Linked DNA regions of Homo sapiens: regions 1, 2 and 3 are each linked to region 4. Evidence: fine-mapped expression QTL. A gene starts in region 4. Each other region holds a variant in brackets. All regions are shown on one strand. Distances are between the middles of the regions. Region 1 overlaps MACF1 (microtubule actin crosslinking factor 1). Region 2 overlaps MACF1 (microtubule actin crosslinking factor 1). Region 3 overlaps MACF1 (microtubule actin crosslinking factor 1). Region 4 holds the start of PABPC4 (poly(A) binding protein cytoplasmic 4).

What was found. PIP is the estimated chance that this variant, and not a neighbour inherited with it, causes the effect.
Region 1: its variant is fine-mapped to the expression of PABPC4 in whole blood (TOPMed, PIP above 0.99).
Region 2: its variant is fine-mapped to the expression of PABPC4 in whole blood (INTERVAL, PIP 0.98).
Region 3: its variant is fine-mapped to the expression of PABPC4 in CD4 T cells (BLUEPRINT, PIP 0.95).

The regions. Positions count from the first base shown.
Region 1 is chr1:39,410,540-39,418,645 of GRCh38, reverse strand. All of the region lies in intron 58 of MACF1 (microtubule actin crosslinking factor 1), which reads right to left. Among named protein-coding and RNA genes, the nearest start is that of BMP8A, 77 kb to the left of the region's middle. The variant A/G (reference allele first, on the strand shown) is at 3,090.
Region 2 is chr1:39,371,249-39,379,354 of GRCh38, reverse strand. MACF1 (microtubule actin crosslinking factor 1) reads right to left here. Exons shown (of 101, transcript NM_001394062.1): 52 at 6,759-6,876; 53 at 832-894; 54 at 1-152. Among named protein-coding and RNA genes, the nearest start is that of BMP8A, 120 kb to the left of the region's middle. The variant G/C (reference allele first, on the strand shown) is at 4,723.
Region 3 is chr1:39,355,524-39,363,629 of GRCh38, reverse strand. It overlaps MACF1 (microtubule actin crosslinking factor 1), which reads right to left. Exons shown (of 101, transcript NM_001394062.1): 45 at 5,737-6,255; 46 at 4,757-4,933; 47 at 4,366-4,489; 48 at 2,629-2,837; 49 at 1,953-2,270. Among named protein-coding and RNA genes, the nearest start is that of BMP8A, 130 kb to the left of the region's middle. RefSeq lists an enhancer at 4,080-5,279. The variant GTATATATATATATATATA/A (reference allele first, on the strand shown) is at 3,576.
Region 4 is chr1:39,572,732-39,580,837 of GRCh38, reverse strand. It overlaps PABPC4 (poly(A) binding protein cytoplasmic 4), which reads left to right and starts at 4,048. Exons shown (of 16, transcript NM_001135653.2): 1 at 4,048-5,079. The coding sequence starts at 4,887. It overlaps PABPC4-AS1 (PABPC4 antisense RNA 1), which reads right to left. Exons shown (of 4, transcript NR_125979.1): 4 at 7,635-7,757. RefSeq lists a silencer at 3,794-4,103 and enhancers at 4,604-4,673, 5,174-5,223, 5,244-5,363.

The sequences.
Region 1 (8,106 bases), 160 kb after region 4:
AGTGATCTGCCTGCCTGAGCCTTCCAAAGTGCTAGGATTACAGGCATGAGCCACGGCATCCAGCCTTGTTATTGCATTTTTCCAGTTTTATCCTGACTGATTCTTTTCTGTTGTCCTTTGTTTTCTTTCTCCTCTTCTAGATCTCTAAATGATCTTTGGGGGTGGGAGTGAGAGAACGACGTCAGTCCTGGACTCTCTTCTCTTTCTATATTCTTCCTAGGCAATTCCATCAATTTCTGTGGGTTTAAATACTAACCACAATAAATGCTTATGACTCTCAATTTGTCTCTCTGAGTTTCAAAGCTACGTATCCAACTGCTTTTTTAATATCTCCATGCAAAAAAATGAACCACAGGCATCCCAAGCCTAACAGTTCAAAAATGAAACAGTGTCTCCCACTTTCCCTTACCTCTTCCTTAAATCAATAATTTATACTATCCACTCCACTGTACAAACCAGAACCTAAAAGTCACCCTTGATAACTCCCTCAGCCCCAACACAGAAGCCACAATCAGATCTTGTTGATTTTACCTCCAAAATATATCTTCAATCCACCCTATTGTCTTCAAATCCATTGACATCATTTTATTCAAAGAATTTGCCAAAATTTCTAACTATGTATTTATTTTATATTTATTTATGTGTGGTTTTCTTAATATCTGCCTCCTCCACTCAGTATAAGTTCCACAAGGCCAAGGACCATGTCAATTCTATTTACTGCAGGAGCCTAGTACCTGGCACAGAGTAGGTACTCATAATATTTACTCAGGCCGGGTGTGGTGGCTCATGCCTGTAATCCCAGCACTTTGGGACGCCGAGGCAGGCGGATCACCTGAGGTCAGGAGTTCGAGACCAGCCTGGCCAACACAGTGAAACCCTGTCTCTACTAAAAATCCAAAAAAAAAAAAAAAAAAAAAAAAAAAAAAAAAAAATTAACTGGGTGTGGTGGCACATTCCTGTAATCCCAACTACTTCGGAGGCTGGGGCAGGAGAATTGCTTGAACCCGGGAGGTAGAGGCTGCAGTGAGCCAAGATTGTGCCACTGTACTCCAGCCTGGGCAACAGAGTGAGACTCTGTCTAAAAAAAAAAACAAAAACTTTTTTTTGTTCCATGAATGAATGAATCCTTGTACACAAACGGTGTTAGGGAATGCAAAAAACCAATGAAGATTCTGCCGATCAGCAGAGCGTTCAAACACTGAACTGGAATTGTGGTGCTCTCCAATTTTTGCTTAAAAAGACTCCCTTGGCAAATTGTAATCTTATAGAACCCTTATTTTATACAAAAGGTTTTTTTCTTCCTTTGAACCAGTGGCTGGGATTAAGACTGAAGAGGTCTATAAATAAGCAGGGAATTTACATAACCAGAGATTGGTCTCAGTAGGCCTCAGATCCCATTACAGAAAAAGCAAACGAGTTTTTGGCATTTTAGTTCTACCAAACTCTGTTGTTATTGCAATTACAAAGTTTATATCTATTTTAACCATGTATCCATGTCTGCACTTGCACATATACATACAGACATAGAGGACCTCAGTTCATGCTAAATCACTTGTTGAGTTCTAAGTATTTATATATAAAAATGGCAGGTTCAGTTGCCTCTTGGAATCCTAAGGGAATGGAAGAAATAAAAAATTAACCTCTCATCTTGGAAAAACCTTTTAAAATAATATTTCACCAATTTAGCAAACCTGTATACTCATGTTAACTCTATAATGATTTGTTTTGTTTCAATATTTTCAAAATGGCCTCTCTACATTCTTGCTGGTTAACAGTCCTGGCTGAGGCTCAGATCTATCCTTTCCTGTACACAGATATAGGCATTTGCTCACTTCCAGATATTCCACAAAGTAACCACACTTCAAAGATGGACAACTTTGCAGCTGGGCTACCATTTCCTTCTCCTGTCATTTACATCAGGCAATATTTCATAAAAGGATTACCTCCTGTAGCTGGAAGGATAGTTAGAGATTATGTAGCCATCTACTCATTTTGCAGATGAGGAAACAAGGATTCCAGAGACTGATACAGGATTTCTATGACTTTTTCCCCTTTATGCAGATTTGATTGCCTCACTATAAATTTAATCCTTATATTTCATGATTACTGCTATATAAGCTTTATACTGGAGATATTCTGTTTTTTTTTTTTTCTTTTTATTTTCTCAGAGATGGGGTCTTACTATGTTGCCTAGGCTGTTCTCGAACTCCTGGCCTCAAGCAATCCTCTTCCCTTGGCTTCCCAAATGTTGGGATTAGAGGTGTGAGCCACTGTGCCTGGTGTGAAATATTCTGTATTATCAAGAATGGCTCTGTTGTTGACCTACTGTCTTCACTTTGTACAGGCTATTGGGATCTCGGTGTCATTCCAAATTCAATAAAACTCGGAAAAATGAATCAAAAATCCATCAGTCTCAAAGATGATGCATCCTAATTTAATGGAATGCTACCTGACAAAATAACTGGTAAAGCTCAAGGTAAAACCACCACCACTCAGCAAGGCCAGATTATCTTAATCAATCCTCTTAATCAAAGAGTTTATGGCATGCAATCAAAATGATTTTGTTGTCAGGACCTGCATGTTTAGCTGGTGCTCTAGCTGACTTAAGGCTGCCCTGAAAGGCTCTGCAGTGAGGTGAATGAGAAAACCCATCTTTCTTGTAGCATCCATCCATAGTCTAGGAAATTGATATTCATGCATTCAGTCAGTCAGTCAACAGCAAATGCCTGCTATGAAGAAGGCACTATTTTGAGTCCTAGGGGCGCAGTAAAATCAAAACAATCTTCTCACTCAGTCATCTCTTGTGTTCAGATTAAACCTCTAACTCCTGCACTCTTTACCACTGACCAAATCAAACCTGGGTAATTAACTGTGGAAAGCTGCTGATCTCAAATTCCTTGGACTAGGAGTGCTCAAGGATGTGGAACATCGTTTCCAACTGTTTCCTAACACATTCGGTTCTCTAACATTAAGAATCTTAGAGCCGGCTGGGCGCGGTGGCTCACGCCTGTAATCCCAGCACTCTGGGAGGCCGAGGCGGGCAGATCATGAGGTCAGGAGATTGAGACCATCCTGGCTAACACAGTGAA[A/G]CCCGTCTCTACTAAAAAAAAAAAAAAAAAATTATATATATATATATACAAAAAATTGCCGGGCGTAGTGGCGGGCGCCTGTAGTCCCAGCTACTCGGGAGGCTGAGGCAGGAGAATGGCGTGAACCCGGGAGGTGGAGCTTGCAGTGAGCTGAGATCGCACCACTGCACTCTAGCACTCCAGCCTGACTGACAGAGCCAGACTCCATCTAAAAAAAAAAAATAAAAAGAATCTTAGAGCCAAGAGAGACCCAAGAGGACATTTAGCCCAATTTTCTTGTTTTATAATGAAGAAATGAGGTCCTGGAAAGGAAAATGACTTGCTTAAGGACACAAAGGCAGTTTGACAAAGATGACTAAAATATCTCTATTTTTCATAAACATTATGCCTAGCTCTGGTTTTCAGAAACACATATTTGCATTTAAAAGTTCTTAATCATTTAGCTTTATTGCTTCTCTCCAATCTACTTTGGTAAATTCTTTCAACCAACCAACATACCTATTTGAAAAGAATGGGGAGGATATGGCCAGTGATTGGTAATCTTATACGCTTGGTACCTTAAATGTATCTCATTTTATCCTCACAGAGTTATGCCTTAACAAATGAAGAAACAGGAAACTCAAGAATAGCTAACTAATTTTCCCAGAGTGGTTAGGAAGCACCCCAGGTCTCATTCCAAAGCTCACACTCTGGCCTCTACCTAAATGTTGACACCACCAATGAATAAACTGTCTCTTGGTTTAGGCAAGAACATGCTCACTGTATAATTCAAAAACAGAATGACCCTTTCCTGCTAATAATCTTTTTAAAAATGTAAATCAACAACTGTTTATATCCCTGTTTTCCGTGGGATTGGCTTATCTGAATAAAAAACGAAGCATGAAATTATAAAGTCTTTCACCAGACAAAATTAAAGTATATTTTCCCCAAAAACTGAACAGAAAGACTACAAACTATAAGCCCGGGAGACCCAAAAAGAACAAAAGAACTATCTGTGCCATTTCTCATCACCACCAGGTCAGCCCTGCAAATCTCACTTTACTCTTTAGACCCTTCCCAGAATCAAAATGGACAATTACCTCATCTGAATTTAATCCAGCGGTTGCAGCCAGAGGCACTTTCCCATGTAGCACTGTGCTGGTCACCTCTTTTATGCCAAATACTAGGGAATCAAGGTCCTCCTTGATCCACATTCCAGTGGAGGAAGCCTCCTCTAGAACAGGTGTTCCTTCTTCTGAAATAGGCACTGAGTCAGTGTGGGCAGAAACTCCCAGGAAGGGCACACCAATGGGGGAAACTTCCTCCATAGGAGGCACTGCAGCAGCTGGGATGGCAGGCACCTCTGGGGTGGGCACTGAAGCAGCAGGGATGGCAGCCACCTCTGGGGTGGGCACTGCTGCTGCTGGGGAGGCGGGCTCCTCTAGGTTGGACACTGCAGCTGCTGGGGAGGCAGGCTCCTCGGGGGTGGGCACTGAAGCTGCTGGGGAACTGAGTTCCTCTGGGGTGAGCACTGCAGCTGCTGAGGAGGTGGGTTCCTCTAGGGTGGGCACTGCTGCTGCTGGGGAGGTGGGCTCCTCTGGGTTGGACACTGCAGCTGCTAGGGAGGCAGGCTCCTCAGAGGTGGGCACTGAAGCTGCCGGGGAAGTGAATTCCTCTAGGGTGGCCACCATAGCTGCAGGGGTGGGCACTGAAGCTGCCGGGGAAGTGGGTTCCTCCAGGGTGGCCACCACAGCTGCAAAGGAGGCAGATTCTGCTGGGGTGGGCACTGCAGCAGCTGGGGAGGCAGATTCCTCGGGGGTGGGCACTGCAACAGCTGCGGAGGCGGATTCCTCTGGGGTGGGCACTGCAGGAGCTGGGAAGGCAGGCTCCTCTGGGGTGGGCACTGCAGCAGCTGGGGAGGCGGGCTCCTCTGGGGTGGGCACTGCAGCAGCTGGGGAGGCGGGCTCCTCTGGGGTGGGCACTGCAGCAGCTGGGGAGGTGGGCTCCTCTGGGGTGGGCACTGCAGCAGCTGGGGAGGTGGGCTCCTCTGGGGTGGGCACTGCAGCAGCTGGGGAGGTGGGCTCCTCTGGGGTGGGCACTGCAGCAGCTGGGGAGGTGGGCTCCTCTGGGGTGGGCACTGCAGCAGCTGGGGAGGTGGGCTCCTCTGGGGTGGGCACTGCAGCAGCTGGGGAGGTGGGCTCCTCTGGGGGGGGCACTGCAGCAGCTGGGGAGGTGGGCTCCTCTGGGGTGGGCACTGCAGCAGCTGGGGAGGTGGGCTCCTCTGGGGTGGGCACTGCAGCAGCTGGGGAGGCGGGCTCCTCTGGGGTGGACACTCTGACAGCTGCAGTATCAGGCTCCTCTGGAGCATGCACTGTGGTAGCTGGGGTGACAGGCCCTTCTGGTGTACCATCCTCCTCTGTGATGGGTACTGTAATAGCTAAAGCAGCCCACTCTGGGGAGAACCCTGCGACAGCTGACATACCCTCCTGTGTGATGGCTGCTGCAACAGCTGGAGCAGTCTCCTCTGGGGAGGACACTGCAGCAACTGCAGCAGTCCCTTCAGGGACAGATACTGTAACAGCTGGGACAGTAGCCCTCTCTGGGGCTGATACTGCAGCAGCTGTGACATCCTCCTCCTCTAAGGAGACTATTGAAGCAACTAGGATGTCCTCATGTGGAAAGGGCACTAAAGCAGCAACTACAGCAGTTCCCTCTGGGGCAGGCACTGCAGCAATTGAGGTACCCTCCTCTGGGCTGGGCAGTGCAGCATCTAGGGCATCTTTGACAGTGGGTACTGCAGCAGTCCGGGAAGGTCTCTGGAGGACGGGTATCCATTCCTCTAAAACTGGTTCAGTATTACCAGCCTTGGTAACTTGTTTCTCTGGAAAAATATTTAGGAATGAATCTGAATCTCTCCTTTCCATCTCCCCTCCCTCTGATGATGCCACATTCAGCTCAGGCTTTGTATCATTCACAGTTTCCACTCCATCTGGATTAAGTCTCAGTTCTTCAACCAGCAGGTGCAGACTCAGAATCTCTGACTCTGGGGACTTCCTCTGGAGATCCTGGAAGACCTGCTCTGGGAAGTTTCTGTGGAAATGTGCTGGAGCTTGATCCTCCAAAAGTGTGGCTTGATAATCCAGCTCTTTTGCCTCACCATCCTCATCACAAACTTTCTCCACAGACAATTCACAAGTGACCACATTTCCCATTGATGTCAGACTGTTATTTTCTTGATTAACAGTTACATTCCCACTTTCCAAATGAATTTCATCTGTTAGTAAATTTGATTCATATAACACCTCTACTTCAGGTCCTGAGGTAACATCTGTTAGTTCATGATTAAAAGCAAAACTGAAGGTGACCCTCTCAATGCACTCCTCACCATTCCCCTCAGTTTGACTGCAGTCTCCCTGGGACAAACTGCCATTGTCTTTGGCCAGCTCAGAAGCAATGAAGCCTGATAATTTTTCTTCATGAGAAACCCTGTGATCAGAGTTCAGCAGTCCTCCTGGGTCCAGCTTTTCCAGTGAATCCAGATCAGCTGGCTGTCTGGACTTAAATTCTGCAGTCCTGGGGCTAAAAGGCACTTTTTCACATTCCTCCTTGCTAACAGTGGAAGTGTCTCTCATGATATCAACGTGGGCAATAAGTTCCACAGCATTAGGCACCTGAGAAGAATCCAGGGTATTAAAATATCCACAATCCAATCTAGTATCATAATCTTTTGCCCTTACATGTAAAAGGCCTAAATGCTGTTCCTTTTCTAAGGCAGCCCCTGAAAAATGACTAATTACGAGTAAATTTTCTGCATCCTGGGATGCAGCCAGCCCTTCAGAAGAGATTTGATTCTGTAGCTCAACTAGAGGAGTTACTCCTTCTTCACATAAACACTCCTTTTCAAGTTCAAGAAACATCTGCACTGAGTCTGTGTCAGAGAGCTGTTCTGCATCAATAGTACCCACAGTACATGCTGAATCTGAAACAAGTCCCTCTAACCCCTGAGCAGTTCTGTTTGCCACCTCACCGAGAATATCCTCACCTGTAAGAACACAATCGCAATCCAGGGGTATATCCTTGGGAACAGTAGCCAACTGGTCCTTGGCTGGCTGTGGGTCATCAGGGCAACAAATCTGACCAAGAGATAGGTGGCCAAAAGTCCTCAAGACAGCAGCTAAGCAATCGGATCCATCCTCCACCACTGCTGTGTTTGCTTGTTCTCTTTCTTCAAAAATATCTGCCAGGCTGTTCTTCTCATCTGCCATCAGAAAAGTCTTTTCCCTGTCTGACAGTTTCTCTTCCTCCCACTCTCCCTCAGCCTCCATCATAATCCATCGCTCATCCTCCTCAAACTTTAGCTCAGACTCTGTTTTCTCTCTCAGGCTGGGGGTTATGAGAACATGCAATTCTGGATCTAACAGCTCTTCACTCAGGCAAGGGGAGAGAGGTGGCATTTCCACAGTGCAGGCTGTGTCCCCAAGGGGGTGCTGCTTCTCACTGAAGCCTCCCTTAGCTAAACTTTTTGTGGCCCTCGGCCAGGTTGCACTTGAGAATCTGGATTCCTGCATTACATCTGTGTTACCACTTGTTGCTACAGCTTCTGATTCTACAGGCTGGAATTCATGAGGAGGGTTTGCACTGTGCTGCTGAAATCTAAAGTCCTGGCAGTCTCCACTTAAGTTTTTAAAATCTTGCACCTCTGGAATACCTATGGATTTGGACACATGTTCCAGAGTTACTGACTCTGACTGAGGTTCCCTGTGGTCCAAATGACCAGAACTTTCTGTTAATGCAGAACTGGACTCCTTCTTCTCTTGCAAGGAAGGATTTGAAGCACCAGCTTCTGAAACCTCACTGAGAGAAGCTTCTATCCTCTCTGCAAATTCTGGGAAGTTGGGTGGCATGAAGGACTTCCACGATCTCCTGTTAACATTGTCTTTGCGTTCTGCATTTGGCCGCCTTCTGGGTGGCACAGGTGCTGACTTCTGCACATCACTGCTTAGCTTTAGTGCATCAAATATTATCCTCTCATCCAGCT
Region 2 (8,106 bases), 200 kb after region 4:
CAGCCACTGCAGCACAGAGTTTGCCTCCTTGTGAACCTCCTCCATTCTGTTGAGGATAGCCTGAAGGCTTTCCTGGCGTTCATGAAGTACTCCCCCTAGTTTCTCATACTTCAAGTTTACATCTGACATGTCACACTGGATCTCCGTCAGATCTAGTATCATAGAAACAGAAATCAGATTGGAGACAGCTCTTCGAGTATGCTCCTTGACTCCTCACTCCTAAATTACTTGCATCTCTCTTACTCCTTCTAGTGAATTAGAGATTATCTTCCTGCTAAATCATACAAAAGTTCCCATTTATATACACAAAACAAAAGCATTCTCATTAATCTGCTTTCTGGTTTTGGCATTATATACTCAGATGTATACCTTAAAATGCTAAACATGGGAACAACAAAAGTGAAGGGAGCAAAGTAAGAAATTAACCTTAGTTTACTATTGGGATTAAGGGACTTGGAGCATTCTTCCATTCCTTCTTCTCCAAACTACAGAGAAGTCACCTAGCTGGGAGGCTGAGAGCTAGACTAGATTATCTCTAGTATAACTTCTTTATAATTCAAAGATTAACATATATTTTCTTTGAGTTCCTTCCCTATTTGCCTTATCTAGTGATCCAATCTATTGTATTTCTACAATACCTTTAGCTTCAGGGGCTGCCAACCTGTTTATGGTCTATAGCCAGCAAACCACAGTTGCTTCTCCCCAGATTTTTATCCTCACACCCATTCTGGCAGCAGTTCTTCCACCACATATTGCAACATACACAGATGCAAACATAGACACTGTCCTAACACATCCAACAAAGAAGCACTGTTGAAATGGCATTCTCACCTTTGCAGGTGTGGTATCCGTTTACACTGCCTACAGAGCTTCCTACAGAGGGCAGTATGGAACCTGAGCAGAAGGACAGGGAGACAAACAGGGCAAGACCAACGTGTTAGGAATACATATAGGCACTGAATTTGTCCTTTGGCCCTCACTTTAAGCTTAGGTATCAGGAAGTTAACACAGCACAAGACAACATACTCATGGAAAGAGACAAATTATTTTAGCTGCCAGGCAACAAAACGTCACTCAAGGTTCTTAGCAGGAATGATTCTTAATCCCTTCTAGAGGAAATTCGTATTCCCTTTTTATTAAATCTCCAACTTGAATTCTCTGGATGCCGCCCTAATTTTGTGAAGCAAGTACTGGTAAAATTATTCAGTCTAGAATGGTACTTGCCATATTTTGGAATAAGCTTTTATAATAAAGCCAGAAAGTTTCACCTTTTATATCAATATCTTTCAATATAATAAAAATGAAAATACCATTAAGGACAGAAAAAGCAGCCTTTTTTTTTTTCTTTTTTGAGACAGAGTCTCACTCTGTTGCCCAGACTGAAGTGCGGTGGCATGATCTCGGCTCACTGCAACTTCCACTTCCCAGGTTCAAGCAATTCTCCCATCTCAGCCTCTCAAACAGCTGGGATTACAGGCGCCTGCCACCAGGCCCGGCTAATTTTTGTATTTTTAGTAGAGACGGGGTTTCACTATGTTGGTCAGGCTGGTCTCAAACTCCCGACCTCAGGTGATCTGCCTGCCTCGGCCTCCCAAAGTGCTGGGATTATAGGCATGAGTCACCGTGCCTGGCCTAAAAAGCAGCCTTCTTCTAATAAAGACATTAAAATGAGCCCTTCTTATATTGTTTTTAAAGGAAGATTATTTGCCTTTTCTTTCATAACCTCTTCTTGCTCACCTTTCCCCAAGAAAAAACAGAAATCCTAAGTGCCAATAAATCTGGCTCATCAACATTCTTATAAATTGTGCTTTGGGCCTTTGGTTCTGTTTCTAATCACCATAATTTCACATACATTCTCCCCAAACTGATTCCTTATATTTCAGAAGTTTCCCAAGATAGGTAAAAATCAGGTGAGGTAATGATAAATATTATACAGAAATCTGAAAAATATTCATAATGATACTTTAAAAGGACAGAAAACTCTCATATGCACTGACTTCACTGTACAAAAAGTCATGTGCAAGGTTATATTACAAAATAGTTGGCCGGGCGCGGTGGCTCACACCTGTAATCCTAGCACTTTGGGAGGCTGAGGTGGGTGGATTGCCTGAGCTCAGGAGGTTCGAGACCAGCCTGGGCAATACGGTGAAACCCCATCTCTATTAAAATGCAAAAAATTAGCTGGGTGTGGCAGCGGACGCCTGTAGTCTCAGCTACTGGGGAGGCTGAGGCAGGAGAATCGATTGAACCCGGGAGGCAGAGGTTGCAGTGAGCCAAGATGGTGCCACCGCACTCCAGTCTGGGCGACAGAGCAAGACTCCATCTCAAAACAACAACAAAAACAAAATAGTTGTGGGCCAGGTGTAATGGCTCACGCCTGTAATCCCAGCACTTTGGGAGGGTGGAAGTTTAAGACCAGCCTAGGCAACACGAGACCCTGTCTCTACAAAAAAATATTAAAAAAAAAAAAAATTAGTCAGGCATGACAGTGCACATTTGTGGTCCTAGCTACTCAGGAGCTTGAGGTGGGCTGATTGCGTGGGCCTAGGAGGTCAAAGCTACAGAGAGCCATGATCACACTACCGTACTCCAGCCTGGGTGACAGAGCGAGACCCTGTCTCTAAAAGGAAGGAAAAAAATTAGCTGAATTAGGGTGGTGATTATAAAACTTTTAAATGTTAATGTTATTATATTTTCGATTAAAAAATACAAAATAGAAAAATAACATTCCATTGCAGTGTGGTGATGCAAAAAAAGAAACTGGACTAGTAGGTGGGAGAAGACGGTACTAACCAAGGTTGTCACTAACTCAGTATGTGAGCCTTAATCTACAAACACAGTTTATTCTGCAGGATTTAAAGATAATACAACCTATCCTGTTAACTCTCATGGGGTAACTGGGAAGAGATCATGAGCGAATGTATATCAAAGTACTTTATGAAACGGAGCTAGATAAATGTAAGGAACTGAAATATACATGGTTTTTCAGAGTTGGAGGAGAACTTTGAGAGCACTCAAGATAGTAATTTTCAAACTGATTTTCAAAACACCCTAAAAACGTGCTTTAGGGATTGTGTTTAATGTTTGGTTTAAATGTAATATTCACATAAATTTCTAAGTACTTAGAAATGATAATAAAACATGCATGTTCAATTATGCTGAATTCTACACCTTAACCCACCAGATAAAACCAATTATGCTGCTTTTCTGGGGAAAGTAAAGCAGCTCCTGACACATCTAAGCATCTATTTTAAGTTATTTTTGAGTGTCCCTGATTGGAAAGGTGGTAGCTCTTTACCAGCAATTTATGATATTCAAACCTGTCCATGTCCACTCATGTATACTATACAAAGAAAAACATCTATAGCACATGTGTAATACATTAAATAACACGACCAAAAATATAACACGACTTGCTCTCTGTACATCTACACAGTTCTCATTGTGGCAGAATTGTGTAATAATAGAATTCTTAACACTTCAAGTCAGTTGGACAGTTTTTGTCCTCAATGTCAGTCTTAAGTGTTTTCTATGTGTAAAAGCCCTCATTAAATATTCTTAGTGATTTAACTTTGAAACAATAATTTCTTATTACATCACTTTCAAGTTTCTAGCTCAATTCAATCAAAGCCTGTTCTGACATTGTGAAGTCAACTTTCAAAAACATTTGTCATCATTTGCAGTTACTTAATCTGTGTGAACCATATTTTCTGGATACAATGAAACCAAACAAAATTTAGAAATAAATTAGATAGGCTGGGCCTGGTGGCTCACACCTGTAATCCCAGCACTTTGGGAGGCCAAGGCAGGTGGATCACAAGGTCAGGAGATTGAGACCATCCTGGCTAACACAGTGAAACCCTGTCTCTACTAAAAATACAAAAAATTAGCCAGGCGTGGTGGCAGGTGCCTGTAGTCCCAGCTACTTGGGAGGCTGAGGCAGGAGAATGGCATGAACCTGGGAGATGGAGCTTGCAGTGAGCCGAGATCGTGCCACTGCACTCCAGCCTGGGCAACAGAGCGAGACTCCGTCTCAGGAAAAAAAAAAAGAAAGAAAGAAATTAGATGGTGAAGCTGTCATCCAATAATCTTCCTTTTCAAATTTTTATATTCGTTAAGTTAGTCTCAATATTCTTACTGATGGATTTCATAACAGATAAATGCTATAAAATAACATATAAGGGAAACTTACACCAACAAAATGGTTTCTTTTAATTTTTATTATTTATTTATTTATTTATTTTTGAGATGGAGTCTCGCTCTGTCACCCAGGCTGGAGTGCAGTGGTGCGATCTCAGCTCACTGCAAGCTCTGCCTCCCGGGTTCATGCCATTCTCCTGCCTCAGCCTCCCGAGTAGCTGGGACTACAGGCACCCGCCACCACACCTGGCTAACTTTTTGTATTTTTAGTAGAGACGAGGTTTCACTGTGTTAGCCAGGATGGTCTCGATCACCTGACCTCATGATCCACCCGTCTCGGCCTCCCAAAGTGCTGGGATTACAGGCGTGAGCCACTGCGCCCGGCAGCCAACAAAATGTTTTGTTTTACGTAGTAGGGTTCTATATGAGATTTCTGTTCTATATGAGATTTCTGGTTTTTTTTTAAAAAAATGATCTAGTCTAGGAGTCAGTAAACTACAGCTCATCAGTCAAATCTGGCCCTTTGTTTCAACAAAGTTTTACTGGAATACAGTCACAACCACTCATTTCTATTAATGTATT[G/C]TCTTTGGCTGTTTTTGTTACAATGGCAGAGGTATATGACTGTGACAGAGACCATATACCCTGCAAACCTAAAATAGTTACTATCTGGCCCTTTATAGAAAAAGTTTGCTGACTCTGATTTAGTCACACGAATAAGTCACTGAACGTAGAGGTTGATATATCACCAATTCCCTGAAATGTCACTTGTGGATAGTTCCAAAATATCTTTTAACTTTAGAATACTATAGAAAAGTACACATTTTCAGAAAGCAAATAAATTTTTCCTTTACTCGTTAAGTGACTATAGGAGTGCACTATCACAGACTAGTAATAAAACTTATGTGATCTCAATTAACAACGAGCAAGTGACTGGGAACTCACATGAGATTTTGTTTATTTATTTATTTTTTTTTAGACAGAGTCTCGCCCTGTCGCACAGGCTGGAGTGCAGTGGCGCAATCTTGGCTCACTGCAACCTCTGCCTCCCGGGTTCAAGCAGTTCTCCCACATCAGCCTCCTGAGTAGCTAGGATTACAGGCGCAAGCCACCATGCCTGGCTAATTTTTGTATTTTTAGTAGAGATGGGGTTTCACCATGTTGGCCAGGCTGGTCTTGAACTCCTGGCCTCAAGTGTTCCACCTCCTTTGGCCTCCCAAAGTGCTGGGATTACAGGCGTGAGCCACTGTGCCTGGCCTTCATATTAGATTTTGCTTCAAAGACTTAATTTGCAGTGAAAGATTATATACACATCTGGGCACAATCTTTGTACCCCCTTTGAAGTACTGATTTTTTTTTTTTTTTGAGATGGGGTCTCCGTCCGTCGCCCAGGCTGGAATACAGTGGCACGATCTTGGCTCACTGCAACCTCTGCCTCCCGGGTTCAAGCCATTCTCTTGCCTCAGACTCCCAAATAGCTGGGATTACAGGCACAAGCCACCAGGCCTGGCTAATTTTTATATTTTTAGTAGAGACAAGGTTTCACCATTTTGGCCAGGCTGGTCTTGAACTCCCGACCTCAAGTGATCAGCCCACCTAGGCCTCCCAAAGTGCTGAGATTACAGGCATGAGCCACCATGCCTGGCCCAACACTGACTTCTAAATACCTTGCTTCTTCCTGGATATCACAATCATACCTACCCAGGCTTTCCCAACTTTTTTTTTTTTTTTTTTTTTTTTTTTTCCTGAGATGGAGTCTCACTCTGTCTGTTGCCCAGGCTGGAGTGCATGCACTGTCGTGGCTCAATGAAACCTCCACCTACCAGGTTCAAGCTATTCTCCTGTTTCAGACTCCCGAGTAGCTGGGACTATAGGTGCGTGCCACCATGCCCGGCTAATGTTTGTATTTTTTTTTTTTTTTGAGACAGAGTCTCGCTCTGTCTGTTGCCCAAGTTGGAGTGCAGTGGCGTGATCTCGGCTCACTGCAAGCTCCGCACCATTCTCCTGCCTCAGCCTCCTGAGTAGCTGGGACTACAGGCACCCGCCACCATGCCTGGCTAATTTTTTGTATTTTTAGTAGAGATGGGGTTTCACCGTGTTAGCCAGGATGGTCTCAATCTCCTGACTTCGTGATCCGCCTGCCTTGGCCTCCCAAAGTGCTGGGATTACAGGTGTGAGCTGCCGCACCTGGCCTAATTTTTGTATTTTTAGTAGAGATGGGGTTTCACCATGTTGGCCAGGCTGGTTTTGATCTTCTGACTTCGTGGCTGGCCAGTGCCCAAGTTTAAAGATGATGCTTACCCATCCCATTTACACATTCAAAAAAGGGAAATTCTCAAGATGAAAATCTCATTTTAATTATTCAGTGTTCATTTGATAGTTCTAAGTGGGACAACTAGTTCATTTACTTTTTCCATCATGGGAAGGAATTTTGCAAAATGGAGCAATGTTATATAGCAAAAGGGGTGACAGGTCAGGTTGCAGGGGAAGACTGCTTTGGGCATGCCCTTTGTTTTCATATCCAACCTTGATTTTCACTTTAATTATATAAGGAGGCATCTCCAAAGGCCAAAAGCAAAGAGCAATTTTTATTCACTATATTTTGAAGAGCCTGTACTCACCTGTCTTGCCTTGGGAATCAGGTGCTGTGATTTCCATGATGAGATTTTCTAAAGAAGTACCTTTGCAATTGATTTCTTCCACCAGAGTTCCCTTACTTGCCCAGTCATCTAGTAGACTCTGTTTAAAGAAGAAAATGGCCAAATGTAGTATCTGGGGCTTTTTCCTCATAAGTAGGGACATCTGTTCTGTATATACTCCCTAGTGTTTTGAAAAGCATTAAGAGACCATCCTTCTGATTTATTTATTCATTTATCAAATATCTATTGAACATTTACTATATGACTGGCACCATGCCAAACACTGGGGTACAAAATAGAATTATGATACAATTTCTAAAACCAGAAGCTCAGATTATCAATTGCATTATAATGTGATAAATGCTATTACAGTATTATGGACAGTCTGTGAATTCCAAGAGCATAAGAGGAGTTCTATCTAATTCTGCCTAGAGGAAGGAAAGCTCTGAATTAAGATAATGGCTGGGCATGGTGGTTCACACCTGTAATCCCAGCACTTTGGGAGGCTGAGGCGGGCAGATCACTTGAGGTCAGGAGTACAAGACCAGACTGGCCGACATGGTGAAACCCCGTCTCTACTAAAAATACAAAAAAAAAATTAGCCGGGCGTGGTGGCAGGCACCCGTAATCCCAGCGACTCAGGGCGCTGAGACGGGAGAGTTGCTTGAACCTGGGAGGCAGAGGTTGCAGTGAGCCGAGATCATGCCACGGCATCCCAGCCTGGGTGACAGAGTGAGACTCCGTCTTAAAAAAAAAAAAAAAGCAAAGAAAGATAAGAGTTTGCCAGATGGACAAGAGGGAACAACATGCATATAAAGATAAAAAAAGAAATGGTAACTAGAGGATAAATAAGGAGCTAGATATTGAGATACAGAAAAATACATAGAATCATAGGCTATACTTTGCATTTATTAAGGAAACTTTATATTGGGTTTGAAATCAAAGATCCAACTACCACAGAAATCCGTCAGGAAACAATGGCATTTGCTCTAAGACAAAAATACCACATCACGTTAAGTCTCCAAGATGTCTCCTGCCATAGTTGTAGGATTTTACTCCTTTCAGAGAAAGGACACCATTCTAGCCTTCATTGCCCTCCTCCATACTGAATATCCCTGACAATCTACTTAGTTTGCTTTTGACTTTAAGCTGCAGAGAAAGGCACAGAGCTCTACTCATATTGCCTAATTTCAAACTGACCCTTGGTCACTGCTTGTCAGTTCTTTAATTAATCACTCTTTTTTTTTTTTTTTTTTTTTGAGACAGAGTCTCACTCTCTATCACCCAGGCTGGAGTGCAGTGGCACCATCTCAGCTCACTGCAACCTCCA
Region 3 (8,106 bases), 220 kb after region 4:
CTCTGTCTCAAAAAAAAAAAAAAAAGAAAGAAAGAAAGAAAGAGTCTTGTTGATTAAACTGTAACTCTTCTACACAATGAAAGTATGGTTTAAAAAACAAAGATCTCTGTGAATCCATATTAAGTGATTTCCAAGACATATTAAGTAAAAAAGCAAAGGATTACGTAATATACCCTTCTTTTTTGTAAGGAAGAATGGAGAATAAGAATGTGTGTGTATGTTCATTTTGGTAAAAAGGAATAGAAAAAAATAAACCTGAAATGTGTTACTATGGGGATGGGTGAAAATGGGATGGAAGAGACAGGAAAGACAATGAGAATATATCCTTATTCACTTCCTATACCTTGAGTATAACTTTTTGAAGAGTTTTAACTTTTGACCTATGTTAATGCTTTACATATTTAAAAATAAGTTTAATCAACAAAGGTAGAAAAATAAAGTCCTAAAGTTGAATACAAATAGAAACAAATCTAATTATATAAGAAATTACAGAAAAAATAATTCAGGTAATTTTTGAACACAGTACATAGTGGGTCATAGGCTAAGGACAAAAACAAATCCAAAGAAATCTTCAATTTTATTTAGCAGGTTTGTTATTGGTAGAAATACTAATGTAATTCTAAAACTATCTTATATTTATTGTAGAATAAAACAAATAAGTAAATATATTAAAGTTGCTGGGAACTAGGGTTCTCCCTACAGGAAAGGAAGATACAAATGTGGAAAGGAGGAAGATTCCTATGGTGTTGCGTTGAGACTAGACTATCAGTATGATTTTATGATATAAGAAACATACACATATATTTCCTAACACTATCTATTAAAAAGAACCTAAAAGTAGTGACACTCCAGTAGCTCATCTAGTGTCCAGATTTGGTTTCTAAATATCATTCCCCACTAAAAGTGGGACTCCTTGGATAAATAGCTGATTTCAGATAGGGGACAAGGAAATACATTATTGTGCCACAAATATCTTAAGTTCCAAAAGTGCTCTTATGCTGAGGAAGACATGTCAAAAAGCCACAGGAGACAGCTTGAAGAGGCTCCCACCGACCACATTTGGGAAAACGTTAAGTATCATAAAGAATAATGGTAATAACAAATATAGAAGCCCATAATGATACTCTCTTTTATATTTTTATAAGAGAGGGAAAACAATTAGCAACTGGTGAATCTAGGTGAAGAGTATGCTGGTGTGTAATGGACCATTTCTTCTGCTTTTCTGTAAGTTTGAAATCATTCAAAGCAAAAAGGAGAGCAAACCAAACCAAACAATGAGATTCCACTTTAATATGGAAAAAGTTAGAAAGCTGGATAAAGCGAAGGCAGCAATGCAGAGATACAGGAATGCTGAAGTACTACAGGTGGGAATGTGTGCTGGTACAGCCATTCTGGAGCTCAAATTGGCCACTACTGAGTCGAATTAAATTAATATATGCATATACTATGACTTGGCAGTTTTACTTCTGGATATATATCTGTGGTAGCTGTTAATACTTTTACCAAATATTTCTAGCTTTGCACCTTCTAGGTAAGTGGTGAGATTACATTTCCTCACCCTCTTGAAAGGTATAGGTGGTTTTGTGGAAAGTGCTTTGACTAATAAAATGTAAATAAATATAATATGCCCTTTTACCACTGAGGCAGTAATCATGAAAGCTTATATCAGGATGAAATCTCCATCAATCTGCATCCCTTGAGTGACTATGATGAACTGAGTGGCCCTGCTGATTTGGGTTGAACATGTAATAAGAGTGAAAAATAAATATTGACTGTGTTGCTTAAAAAATGGACAAATGATACCTAGTTTACGGGATCACTGTAATAATTCCCAAAGATAATGCAGGTAGTTTCCAGTATACTGACTGATGTAGTATGCGCTCAGCAAATGCTGGTTCTCTCCCTGCCCTTCTCTTCCCTTTATTCTGCTAACATGGCAGATATATCCTCACCTGGATCTGTTGGAAGAAATGTGTAATATCTTGATCTGGCTGATTTCCAGAGGCCAGCATCCGACTTTTGTTTTCCATGAACTGCTGCAGCTTACCAGAGAGGTGTTCAAACATCTCTGCCTGGGGTAGAAGCTTCTTTAGGGAGCTCTCCTTTTCTTGCTGCTGTAGACAGAGCTGTTCGAACCGCTGGCTCACCTCTGCCAGTTTGCCCTGCAGCACTGCTGCTGTAGTACTGTCTGCTGTCTCCATGAATCGGGTCACCATCTCACGGGTGGCCTCCAAGCTGCTCTTTTGCCGAGCAATGTCCTGCTTCAATTTCTGTCATGAAGAACACGTCTGTCAGCTCCTGGTTCACTTATTCCAGGACATCTGAGCCACAAACTAATAACTATATGCTATCTCACAAGGGGGACTGGAGGACTGCAACCGAGCCTCCAGAATACCACACATCTCATCACCTTAGTTCTCCACCCCTTCTACCACATGACTTTGCTATCTCCACTTTCATTCCAGCTCAACTGGGTAGAAATATCTTTACATAGATTAGTTATCATTTCTAAATCTTATTAGATGATTCACAGATATTAGGTTCCCTCTTGTTACTTTTTCAACATTATGTAATGATGGCACATAGCAAACATACCCTCTATGCTAGCTCTTGGGACACAGATCTTACCATATTTGTGGCTAAGGCTTCCTGGATGACTCCTGATGAGAGTGATGACACCTGCTTCCCTTCCAGGTTTTGTTCAACTTCCCCAATAGACTGCAACAGGCTCTCCAGGCTTTCCTGGACACTCTGAGATTGGGCAATTGCTTTCTGCAGCAGAGAAGATCGCTCAGCCAGGCTATAGGAGAGGCTTTGGAAGTGGCTGAGTATGGAATCTGAAAAATCAGGCCATGAAAAGAAAGAGTGGAGACAATTTTTGTATTATGCTTTTAAAGACTTTATTATTAATATTATTAAATAATAAATAATAAAAATTATTATTATTATTATTATTATATGGATGTGGTCTTAATATGTTGCCCAAGCTGGTCTTGAACTCCTGGCCTTAAGCAATCTTCCTACTTCAGCCTCCTAAAGTGCCTGGATTACAGGCATGAGCCACCATGCCCAGTCCTACATTGAACATAGTAATTGTAATAATAATTGACATTAAGACCAATAGAAGGAATAAGTTTGAAATGCATTAGTATCAGAGCCAAGTTCAATAAGCATTAGTTATTTACTGCATACAAAGAACCAGAAATTGTACTAGATGCTGAGGACTAAAGATACTTAAGTATCTTATCTGACATCTACAACTTAAGACTTTAAAACAGAGCATAGGCAGAGGAAGATGCATCACAATTAATGATAAAAATCAAATCTTAAGTGGTATATTAATACTAGAAGTACTGTCCTCGAGAAGCCCAGAAGGAAGAATAATTATCTTTCGTTTCTTTTGAGGAGTGGGATGGCTAAGCTAAGCTATTTAACATATGCATTACCTCACATACTTATCATTTTTTTGTGGTGAAAACACTTAAAATATACTCTCACAGCCATTTTCAAGTATACGATATATATGTGTGTGTGTGTATATATGTGTGTATATACATATGTGTGTGTGTGTGTGT[GTATATATATATATATATA/A]TATATATATATATATATATATATTTTTTTTTTTTTTTTTTTTTTTTTTTGAGACGGAGTCTTGCTGTGTCGCCCAGGCTGGAGTGCAGTGGCACGATCTCAGCTCACTGCAAGCTCCGCCTCCCAGGTTGATGCCATTCTCCTGCCTCAGCCTCCAGAGTAGCTGGGATTACAGGCGCCTGCCACCATGCCTGGCTATTTTTTTGTTTGTTTGTTTGTTTTGTATTTTTAGTAGAGACGGGGTTTCATCTTCTTGGCCAGGATGGTCTCGATCTCCTGACCTCGTGATCTGCCCGCCTCGGCCTCCCAAAGTGCTGGGATTACAGATGTGAGCCACCACGCCCGGCCTGTATACGATATATTGTTATTAACTATAGTCACCATGATATACTCTTGGCTACATCTTGAAGCATGGGCAAGATTTCACCACGCTTGGTAAGCATTCAATAAATGTTATCAGCTAAGCAATAGGAAAAACTTCAGGGGTAATACAATGTAAGTGGTTTACTTGGGAAAGAAAAGTAGATGTGGCTAGAAGATAGATGTCTGGGGAAAAGGGACTGAAGCCAGATTGTGAAGGTCCTTCAATGGTGCAAGAATAAAGTTCATTAGAGGATAAGCTCTTTGATGACAATCTATGTCTATTCATGTTTATATTCTCAGCCTCTAGCCTGGCACCACAGATATTTGCACAACACAATGTGACATATTGCAGAATAGAGGTACATACTAGGAATTAAGGGAGTACTATTATACTGTTGCTGCTTTATACCTGTAGTTTCTTGAACATGCCTGTGGTCTGGGGCTGGCTCCCCTTCAATTTCCATTATGTCACGAGCTACTTTTTGGAGTTTTTCCACAGGTACTTGGTGCTCAGCCAATTCCTCCTGCAACTGCTGCTTGTCCATGAAAAAAACAAAAGAAAAACATCTAAGTAATCAAAGATGATTCTAGGAATCCGGAGCTACTGAACAGCTTTACAGAATAATTGTAAGTTTAACCATAGCCATAAATATTAGAAGCAAGTGTTTAGCACTCAGATCTTGTCCAAGGCATCCCAACCACTGCCTTTATTTTATGTAAGCATTTGCTTTATTTTGGGGTACTTTACGCCATGGAATACAAGGTCTTGACACCACAACACAGCCTGTGTCCTGACTTACCTTTGTTGTTGCAAGCTGCTCCTGGAGAACTCCAGGGTCAGAGGCAACAGTATCTGAGAGGAGCTTCTCCACGTTGGCCTCACAAGCCTGCATCCAGGCCTGCAGGCTGTCAGCACTGTTTTGGAATTGATGATACTGGCCTAACAGCATATTCAGGTGAGATCCTAATCGTGTACACTGTGCCAGAGAAAGAAAGGTAAGCAGACTTAAGCAAGGTCAGGCCAAAGGCAGCAGCTGCCCAAAGAAAGAGGCCTGGCTTTGTTACAGACAACTCACTGTAACTTCAGATAAGGGTATTGCCAGAACCCATGGATAGATGGGTAGCAATGATCTCTAAGTGTGGGTCCCCATTGTTTGCTCCATACTATTCACCTTGACCTTCTTACATTCCCAGGAAAATTTAATGAGATGTATGACAAGCTTCCAAAGAAATGAACATAAGGTTGCAGACAAAGGTAGGGGTTAAGAAGTGCAAAAAGTATTCTTTCTTGGGGATTAGAAGTGTTGGCAGAAGGCATAAGACAGGTAAGAAGAGCTGACTGGATTCTAAACTTTAGAAGAGCGAGCAAGTTCTTTAGATAGGAAGGAAGGTAAGGATTCACCCTAGATGCTCTGTGAAATAAAGACAGAAATAAAGACTGTGCAATTGGTTTAAATTTCCCCTGTGTGCTATGTCTCTTGGGAGTCCAAGTCTGCTGGTCAGGATACAGGAAGGGGAATACTTCCACCTTCACCATCAGTGTGATATACTCCTGCCAGTGCTAGGTATTAGGTATTAGCTAGCTATCAGGCCTTTGGGCTAGTACCTATGTATTTTACATTTTGTGCATTGTTTGTGAAGACCTTCTGCCCATGGTCCAAGTATAAATCAGCTCTCCTACTGTGTCCTGGAGTTCTTATTCTGAGCCCCAGACACTACCTACATTGTGTGAAGGCTGCCATGATTGTTTCACCAAGGATGCCAGGAACTGCCCCCTTACCTTTGAGTGGAGAGCAGTGTATCTTTCTGTTGCATCCTTCAACTTGTCCTTTACTAAGTTTCCAATTTCTGATGGTTCTTTGCCTTCCTTAAAACTGTTTTCCATGTCCAAGACTTTCTGTCCTGAGATAGTCACAAATCTCAAGTCTCCTTTGTGGGAAATGACATCCTCTGAGAAGCTTCCTTGCCGCTTTAGCAGGGAGGGAAGGGTCTCGGGGCTGCTGCCTCCCTTATGCATGTTCTCCAGCTCTTTCTCGGATCGTTCCAACCAGCTTTCAAACTCTTTATGATCCTGCAGAAATTTCTGCAACTCATCCTGAAGTGTCTGCACCTGCTTCAGTTCTGCCTCTGATTGGGCCAGGGAAGTAGAGTATTGTTCCTTTAGCTCTCCCAGCTTCTGTTGCAGCATCTGTTGCTCCTCAGGTGTGAGATTGTGGCCATGCTGATCCAAGAAGGCCTGAGCTGACTGGGTGGCCAGAATGAAATTTTGCTGCTGGGACAGCAATTCTTGGTGACGGGCCTGGTAAAAAAAAATCCCCCCAAACAAAGGACAATCAGTAGGCAATCCACAATAATTTGAGGTATACAAGACTGGACTTCATACTCCATGTGAGGTCTGCTTACATTCAGCCTTGGTCTTTTCACCCACATTGCTGTCAAGTCATACACCTCTCTCAGTTTTGCTGCATCTCACATTTTTCCCTGTTAACTTCATTTTATTCAGTTCAGCCCCTTGTTTTAGGTATAGCCCTTTAATTTAGATGCTGACTCTTAAGTTGTACTTATAATCTTCAAGGACCATCTACCTATAAGCTAGAAGTAGGGAGAGGTCTCTACCTCTACTCAATAGATCACTTTTCCAACTGCTCAGAAATCACCAATATCAGTCACTCTCTAAACAGTATGCCACATGCTAATCCCCTCTGAACTGACACGTATAGGACTTTATGGTTTTCAAAGAGATTTTACATGTATTATCTCATTTGCTTTGTGGCACGACCTATAATGTAGGTAGACAATATAATACCCATATTAAGAGTAAGTGAATACCAAAAAGACGTTATATATCTTGACTAAGGTCATGCAGTTTGTTAACGAACAGAACTGCAACTCAAACCTGACTCTCTTCGCTAAACTGTACAAATGGACAACTAATAATCATCTACATTAGTGGAAGGGTAGCTGAATAAATCATACATGTGACAATATAAAAATTGTAAGTTTGGCCAGGCATGGTGGCTCATGTCTGTAATCCCAGTACTTTGGGAGGCCGAGGCTGGCAGATCACAAGGTCAAGAGATTGAGACCATCCTGGCCAATATGGTGAAACCCTGTCTCTACAGAAAATACAAAAATTAGCTGGGCATGGTGGCAAGTGCCTGTAATCCCAGCTACTTGGGAGGCTGAGGCAGGAGAATTGCTTGAACCTGGGAGGCAGAGATTGCAGTGAGCCAAGACCCTGCCACTGCACTCCAGCCTGGCAACAGACTTGAGACTCCATCTCAAAAAAAAAAAAAATGCAAGTTCTTAACTGTGAAATATGTCACTCATGTGTCCATGAAGACTGTCCCTACTAGGAAAAGCCATGGAAAATTAATTCAATAATTAGAGATTAAACTGTATTTCTGGGTAATAATAAGTAATTTGTACTTTTTATTTGTATGTACTGTGTCTATGTGCTTATACATAGACCTTCTTTCTATTCCAATGGAATATGAGTTCTTTGAGGAGAGCTGTGAGTTTTTGTTTTGAAACATATATTGGGATGTTCTTCCTGAATCTAGAAGACAGTGGGAGTTGTCAGTGTTCCTTACTACCTATACTGTTTATGCCACTACTTAGAGAAGGACTACAGATCATCGTCTAGTTTTAGCCTGTATCAACAACAACCTGATAGCCTCAGCTTCCCACATCATTTCAAGAAAGCTGAGTGACTAGGAGGCTGATGCAGGAGTATCACTGAAGCTAGGTTTTTGAGACCAGCCTGAGCAACAACATAGCAAGACTGTCTCTTAAAAAAAAATTAATGAGGCATGGTGAGTCCACACCTGTTACAGTGAGCTATGATCGTACCACTGCACTTCAGCCTGGGTGGCAAAGTGAGGCCTCATGTCTTTAAAAAATAAAAAAAAGCTGGGCGCAGTGGCTCACGCCTATAATCCCAGCACTTTGGGAGGCCAAGGCGGGTGGATCACGAGGCCAAGAGATCGAGACCATGCTGGCCAACATGGTGAAACCCCGTCTCTACTAAGAATACAAAAATTAGCTGGGTGTGGTGGCGTGCACCTGTAATCCCAGCTACTCAGGAAGCTGAGGAGGAGAATGGCTTGAACCCGGGAGGCAGAGGTTGCAGTGAGCCGAGATTGTGCCA
Region 4 (8,106 bases):
TTATTCTCACAATAACCCTTTTAATTGTTAATAAGGTTTATTAGTATAGTTCAGATGAGAAATTTGAGGGTCAGAGATGTGAACTAGCTTGCCCAAAGTAATATAGGTAATAAGCTCCCCCAATAGACAATAAGCTTCAGGAGGTCAGAGCTTGTGTGGGTTTTGCTCATCTGTGCCTAGTATTCATTTGTTTATTTAACAAATATTTAGGCCAGGTGCAGTGGTTTATGCCTGTAATCCCAACACTTTAAGAAGCCAAAGTGGATCGCTTGAGGTCAGGAGTTTGAGGCTGCAGTGAGCTATGATCAGGCCACTGCACTCCAGCCTGGGCAACACAGTGAGACTTTGTTGCTTAAAAAAAAATACATGCAGTGGCTCATGCCTGTAATCCCAGCACTTTGGGAGGCCAAGGTGGGCGGATCACGAGGTCAGGAGATCAAGACCATCCTGGCTAGCACAGTGAAACCCCATCTTTACTAAAAAATACAAAAAATTAGCCGGGCGTGGTAGTGGGCACCTGTGGTCCCAGCTACTCGGGAGGCTGAGGCAGGAGAATGGCGTGAACCCGGGAGGCAGAGCTTGCAGTGAGCCAAGATCGCGCCACTGCACTCCAGCCTGGGCAACAGAGCGAGACCCAGTCTCAAAAAAAACAAAAAAACAAAAAAAAAAATACACAGGCTGGGTGTGTGGCTCACGCCTGTAATCCCAGCACTTGGGGAAGCCGAGACGAATACATCACCTGAGGTCAGCAGTCGGAGACCAGCCTGGGCAACATGGTGAAATCCCATCTCTACTGAAAATACAAAAAGTAGCTGGGCATAGTGGTGGGTGCCTGTAATTCCAGCTACTTGGGAGGCTGAGGCAGGAGAATCACTTGAATCCGGGAGGTGGCGGTTGCAGTGAGCCGACATCACGCCACTGCACTCCAGCCTGGGTGACAGAGCAAGTCTCTGTCTCAAAAAAAAAAAAAAAAAAAAAAAGGCTGGGCGTGGTGGCTCACCCCTGTAATCCCAGCACTTTGGGAGGCCGAGGCGGGCAGATTACAAGGTCAAGAGATTGAGACCATCCTGGCCAACATGGTGAAACCCCATCTCTACTAAAAATACAAAAATTAGCCAGGTGTGGTGGCACGCACCTGTAGTCCCAGCTACTCGGGAGGCTGAGGCAGGAGAATTGCTTGAATCCGGGAGGCGGAAGTTGCAGTGAGCCTAGATCGCAGTACTGCACTCCAGCCTGCCAATAGAGCGAGAGTTGGTTTCAAAAAAAAAAATAGCCAGGTGTGGTGGCGCATGCCTGCAATCCCAGCTACTTGGGAGGCTGAGGCATGAGAATTGCTTGAACCTGGGAGGCAGAGGTTGCAGTGAGCCGAGACTGCACCACTGCACTCCAGCCTCGGTGACAGAGGAAGATTTCATACCCCCCCCACAAAAAAAACAAGAAAACACACACACACACACACACACACACACACACACACACAAACATATATTGAATATTTATTTATCTATTTATTTTTTAGTAACAGAGTCTCACTCTGTTGCTCAGCCTGGAGTGCAGCGACATGATCATAGCTCACTACAGCCTTCAACTCCTGGCCTCAAGCGATCCTCCTACCTCAGACTCCCAAGTAGCTGAGACCACAGGCATGTGTCCCCACACCCAGCCAATTAAAAGAAAATTTTTTTTTGTAGAGATAGGGTCTCACTCTGTTGCCCAGGCTGGTTTCAAATGTCTGGGCTCAAGCGATCCTCCTGCCTCAGCCTCCCAAAGCACTGAGAGTATAGGTGTGAGCCACCTGCCTGGCCAGTTACTGAACATTTAGTACGTGCTATGTTAAGCACTATTCTAGATTCCTGTTCTCATGAAGCTTATATACCAATGTGGAAAAGATAGATACTAAACAGGTAAACAGATATAGAACAACATAATTTTGGGTAGGAATAACAGGCTTGAAGACAAGAAGACAAGTTGGTGTGATAGTGATTAACAATGTTGACGGCTACTTTAGACCACAGGAGGTCTAGGAAGACTTTCCTGAGGAGGGAATCTATAGAAGGAGCACTCCCATAAATGTTCCTTTTTTTTTGAGACGGAGTCTCGCTCTGTCACCCAGGCTGGAGTGCAGTAGCATGATCTCAGCTTACTGCAACCGCTGCCTCCTGGGTTCCAGCGATTCTCCTGCCTCAGCCTTCCAAGTAGCTGGGACTATAGGCACGTGCCATCATGCCCGGCTAATTTTGTATTTTTAGTAGAGATGGGGTTTCACCATGTTGGCCAGGCTGGTCTCGAACTCCTGACCTCAGGTGATCCGCTCACCTCAGCCTGCCAAAGTGCTGGGATTACAGGTGTGAGCCATCGTGCCCAGCCAATGTTTCTTGATTTAATATAGTTATTAGAATATAAACTCCATGAGAGAGGGAGTGACTTCTGGTCCACCATGGTATCTCCAGCCCCTGTATTGACATTGGCATAGAGTAGGCTCAGATTAACCATTTATTTGAATTAATTAATATATAAATACACATATTTCTTTAGTCATTTACTTAAATCAGTGCTTTTGAAGGGGGATGTCTGTGTCTTTTGGCAATTTCTGTTTTTGGTTTTCACAGTGATGGCAAAGGTGGTTCCTGGCACTTATGGAAGAAGGGATGCTATATATCTTGTAATGCGTGTGGACAGTCCCATATAACATAGTCCTATAAAGTGATATGACTTTTTTTTTTTTGAGACGGAGTTTCGCTCTTGTTGCCCAGGCTAGAGTGCAATGGCATGATCTCAGCTCACCACAACCTCTGCCTGCCGGGTTCAAGCGATTCTTCTGCTTTAGCCGCCTGAGTAGCTGGGATTACAGGCATGCACCCCCATGTCTGGCTACTTTTTGTATTTTTAGGAGAGACGGGGGTTTCTTCATGTTGGTCATGCTGGTCTCGAACTCTCGACCTCAGTGATCCGCCCGCCTCGGCCTCCCAAAGTGCTGGGATTACAGGCGTGAGCCACCACGCCTGGCCTGTGATACGACTTTCAAATGACCTGCCAGACTCTCATGCAGATGAAAAGTCTTTTTATAATTATCCAAGCCTAGAAGAAACTTTAAACATAGGAACAGAAAGTATTTCTGTGCCCTTAAACACAAACTAAATGTCCGGGAATGCCACCAGCATGTCAATAGAGGGGATGCTTGTGTTTGGTTTCATTGAAGCTTTACCAAAATGTGCTCATCTTTTCAGAAAATCCCATCACCCATGGATACTGCTTGCATTTCTAGTTCCTGACGATTCTACCTCTAGGTCAACGGTATCCTGAAAACTTCTCAAATCTTTATTGTATTTGGACCCAGACATTTACCTATTGGACCACCTATTATTTTATTTTAACTTATTTTATGTCACCTTCATTTCACAATTTGGCATACCATTTAATTTTTTTTTTTTTGAGAGGGAGTCTCACTCTGTTGCCCAGGCTGGATGGAGTGCAGTGGCACGATCTTGGCTCACCGCGACCTCCGCCTCCCGGGTTCAAGCTATTCTCCTGCTCAGCCTCCCGAGTAGCTAGGACTACAGGCGCATGCCACCACGCCCGGCTAATGTTTTGTATTTTTAGTAGAGACGGGGTTTCACCGCGTTAGCCAGGATGGTCTCGATCTCCTGACCTCCATGATCCATCCGCCTCGGCCTCCCAAAGTGCTGGGATTACAGGCGTGAGCCACTGCACCCAGCCCCATACCATTTAATTTTAAACCTCATGCGTGTGTGCAGGTTAAATGGCTCCTAGGTTCCATTCCCGGGTGATGGGTGGGAGGGTGTTAAGATTTATTTGTTATAGAAAGGGGCCCTGGGGTCTCCCGCAGCCGCGAGCTGGGCGGTCCTCCCGGCGCCAGGGGTCGCTGTAGCGCCGCGCGGCCGCGCCGGGTCGCTCTCGCGTGGCCGCCCCGCCTCGGGCCCCCGGGCCGAGTGGGCGGGCACGACTGCGCCCAGGTCGCGAGGCGCCCTTCGACCAGCAGCGCCCGGGGCGGGCGGGTATAAATGGAGCGGTGGCTCCCTCGGCCGCCTCTCTCCGCCCCGGGTCGCTGCCGCCTCCGCCGCTTTCGGGCTTCGCAGCCTGAGGAAAAAAAGAGAAAAAGATAAAAAAAATCTGAAAACGCTTCAAAATCCTGAAAAAAAAAAAGGAAAAGAAAAAACGAATCCTCGGAGAACCCGCGGGGAAGTCACTTTCGTACGCTTCCGGCCTGCCCCGCGCCCGCCGCCGCAGCGCTTGGCGTCCGTCGGTCTCCGTCCGTCGGTCCGGGGGTGAGCCGCCCGCCCGGCCCGCCGTGCCCTCCCCCCGCTCGGGCCCCGAGCCCCGCGCCCCGCGCCTGCCCCGGCGCACCACGTGTCCGTGCTGCCCTTCGCCGCCCGCCCGGGGCTCGCCGAGTCGGCGCCCACAAAGATTTGGTTTCCCTCTGCCCCGGCGGTTGTAATCTTAAACCGCCGGAGCCCGAGGCCTATATTTATAGAGAAACGCGTGTCCCCGAGGCCGCCGTGGGCAGCGTCCGGTCGCCTCTTAAAGGATTTTTACCCTTCGGAAGGGGATTCCCCGTTTAATTTTTTTCCTACTTTGATTTTTTGAAATTTGGAGCTTCGCACCAGGACCGCGGAGAAGTGCAAAGTCGCGGGGAGGGCCGTATTGTGCGGAGAGCCTTTTGTCTGCGGTGCTGCGGCCGTGGGAGCCGGCCCCCGCCTCCCGTTTCCGTCCCGTCTCCAAGCCCGCCGACTCCAGCTCGTCCTCGCCGCGCCGGTGCCACCTGTGAGCCGCGGCGCGGGCCCGGGCTCCGAAGGCGCCCCTTTGTCCTGCGGCGGGCCCGATAAGAAGTCCTCCTGGCGGGGCTCGGGGTGGTGGGGGGCGGGGAGATGAACGCTGCGGCCAGCAGCTACCCCATGGCCTCCCTGTACGTGGGCGACCTGCATTCGGACGTCACCGAGGCCATGCTGTACGAAAAGTTCAGCCCCGCGGGGCCTGTGCTGTCCATCCGGGTCTGCCGCGATATGATCACCCGCCGCTCCCTGGGCTATGCCTACGTCAACTTCCAGCAGCCGGCCGACGGTGAGTAGAAGCTGTGCCCACACGTGCGTGGGAGCCCGGAGGACCCCGGGAGTCGTCTTCTGGCAGGGCCCTCCTGCCGAGGAGGGCGGCATCACGACAGCATGTTGCCACCGAAGCTGGGAGCAGGGTGCGGAGATTGAGAACGCGGACCTGGCATCAGATGACTCGAGTTTCAATCTTGTTTCTACCACTTGCTAACTGGGTGACCTTGGGCTACTTATTAGTGTTGCTGGTAGTGGGGTTGGAAACCAAGGAGACTGTAAAACAGGATTAGAGTGAAGCCACTGGCATTCCACTGCGTGTGGTCCTTGTCAGTGGGGCTGGGCTGTTAGAGATCCTTGCTTGTGCCCCTCACAGGCTGGCCAAAAAGGCGGGACGTTTGAAACACAATTCCCCGCGAAAGTTTTACATTGTAAAGCTCCTGCCCGCTCCGCCACCTTTACTAACCTTGACTACCTGATGTTGTGCTGATAAAGGATCAGTCAGGGCAGGCAGGAAGCAGGGGGAAGGTTTCTGTGCGTTAAACTTTCGCAGAGACTTAGGTTAGTGCCACAAAAGCTGCGTGTGCCAGGCCACCTCCTTGGTCTGTGTGTTTGCCACTGGAGTGGAGAAGTGCTTTACTCTGGACAAATGGTATCCAGGCTCTGTGCTGTAGAGTGTCGTGGAGGTAGTTTAGGGAAGCGTCACTTGAAAATCTGGTGTCATTTGTCACCTCAGCTGTAACAGTGCTTTGCACTAGTCAGAGCCCTTTTATTTCATCTAATCTGAAGAAAATGGGACTCCTGAGAAGGAGAACGAATGCAAAAAGTTGGAAGCCAAGTTAGGACTCCCAGCACAGTGCTCTGCCACCTCAGATTGTGGCCTTAGCGTGGAGCATGGAGAGAGGTATGCTGCAGGCGTGGCAGGAGGGAGGCCAGAGGAAACCTGATCAGAGGCTGCACGTGACTCCAGATTAAAAGGGAACAACTGCAGAGATCATTACTGGGAGAAACAAGCCATTCTATGGCAAAGCATCTCCAGGTCCCTAGTTTTGGGGTCCCCCCTTTGTTTTCTGTCTGAGGCCCAGAGTTACTACCTGCCCAGGTTGCGGCTGAGACCAGAGAATTGGACATGTTGAGAGGGACTAGGTATTGCTACTGTCAATCCAGTGTGCTCCAAGCTGAGTTCTGTCCATGGCCATAGGAGCGCAAAGGTAGCTGAGTGTGGTCTTTTTAAGGGATAATGTACCACATTAGCTGTTGTCTGCCTTACTGACTTTTGAACAAAAGTCGTGTCACTTAGAGATAGCAGAAGCTATTGGTCAGTGTGTCTGCCAACACATACTTCTGCAGGACTTCTCCCTGCTATAAATAAGTGCAGCCAGATTTGTCAGACTAAGCCGGCTTGCCTTGTGCAGTGCTGTCTGGAAATAGACGAGGAGCTGTTGTTGAAGTGGGCTCCTTTACTGCTAATTAATGAAATAGTTTGCGATCCCAGCTATCTATCTCTGATAGCCATCACAAGCAAAGTCCTCTTTCCCTGGACTGTTCCTGACTTGGATCGGTCTTGTCATCTCCCCTTTTCCCAACTACCCCCCACACAGATGAGGCCCACCTTCTGAAGGGGGTGGGGAAAGTTGTTGGAAATAATGAGTGAAAATAAATTCTCCCGGCTAATGAAACAGTTGAGCTTGTGGAGCGGCAGAGTTGGGGAATTTTGTCCCCCCTTTAAGTGAGATGTTGTCCTGAGGCAAGGAGCAGGTTCCACTGCTCTGACCCTGTCTAAATCCCCTCATGGAGGAGGTTCTGGGTGATGTCACCGTTAGGAGATGCCATCATAGCCTTAAGGAAAAGTGGCCACCAGATCTGGGCATCCTTGTTGCGATTAGTGATGAGAAGTGTTTTGGCTGGCAGGTGGTGTTATTTTTTAGCTTTTGGTTCTTTTTGTTGTTGTTTGTTTTGAGACACTGTTTCACTCTTGCTGCCCAGGCTGGAGTGCAATGGCGCGATCTCAGCTCACTGCAACCTCTGACTCCTGGGTCCAAACAATTTTCCTGCCTCAGTCTCCTGAGTAGCTGGGATTACAGGCACCCGCCACCATGCCCAGCTAATTGTGTATTTTTAGTAGAGATGGGGTTTTCACCATGTTGGTCAGGCTGGTCTCGAACTCCTGACCTCAGGTAATCCACCCGCCTTGGCCTCCCAAAGTGCTGGGATTACAGGAGTGAGCCACCATACCCAGCCCAGCCTTTGGTTCTTTAAATTGTCTCTGGTGTACACACGGACTTGGTTGGGAAGCTAAGGAAGCATTCCAAGGTGTTGGATGGGGAAGTTGGTTGAGCACCCAGGGTAGCTGAAGTCCTAGAATTCTACAGAACTTCCATTAAGGCTTCAAAAGGTGGGTGCAGGGCCTGCCATCTGCGCACTGTCTACTTAGGCAGAAGGTATGGTGGTTTTATCCTTGTGATAGTACAGAGAACTTTTCCATGTGTGATCAGTTGTGTCCATTTTGATGACTGATGCTTTTTTGTTTAAGTCAATTTCTGTTCTCAGAAATTGAAAATAAACTGGACTGAATTCTGAATTCAGGGATAGCACCTTTTTTTTTTTTTCCAGATCATTTGCTTTACAGGTTTTGTCACTTGTCTCCATAGGTGGATTGCAGACTAAATGACTTGATAACTTTGATGCAATACCTCACTGAAAAATAAATCAGATAATCTAGTATTAGTTTCGTAATTACTAGCTAGCTGCACAGCTTAGTTACCCTAAACATAAGTTTGTTCATTTTGTAAAATGTATAATTTCAGCTGTCCCACCTGAGTCATGGTGGGTGGTAGTCTGCAAAGTCTCTTCTAAGTGGTAAAGCTTAGTCAAATGTGAGGTATTATCACTGGATCTTGGTGTCATTAAGGCCATTTAGATTATCTTTACTTGTGGCCCCTTTATCCAACAAGGGCACAGACCCAGAAGGGTGTTTAGACTTCTGTCATGAAGTAGAGTCATTAGCTGGAACTTATGCTTCCCTTACTAACAGTGCAGGCTGGAG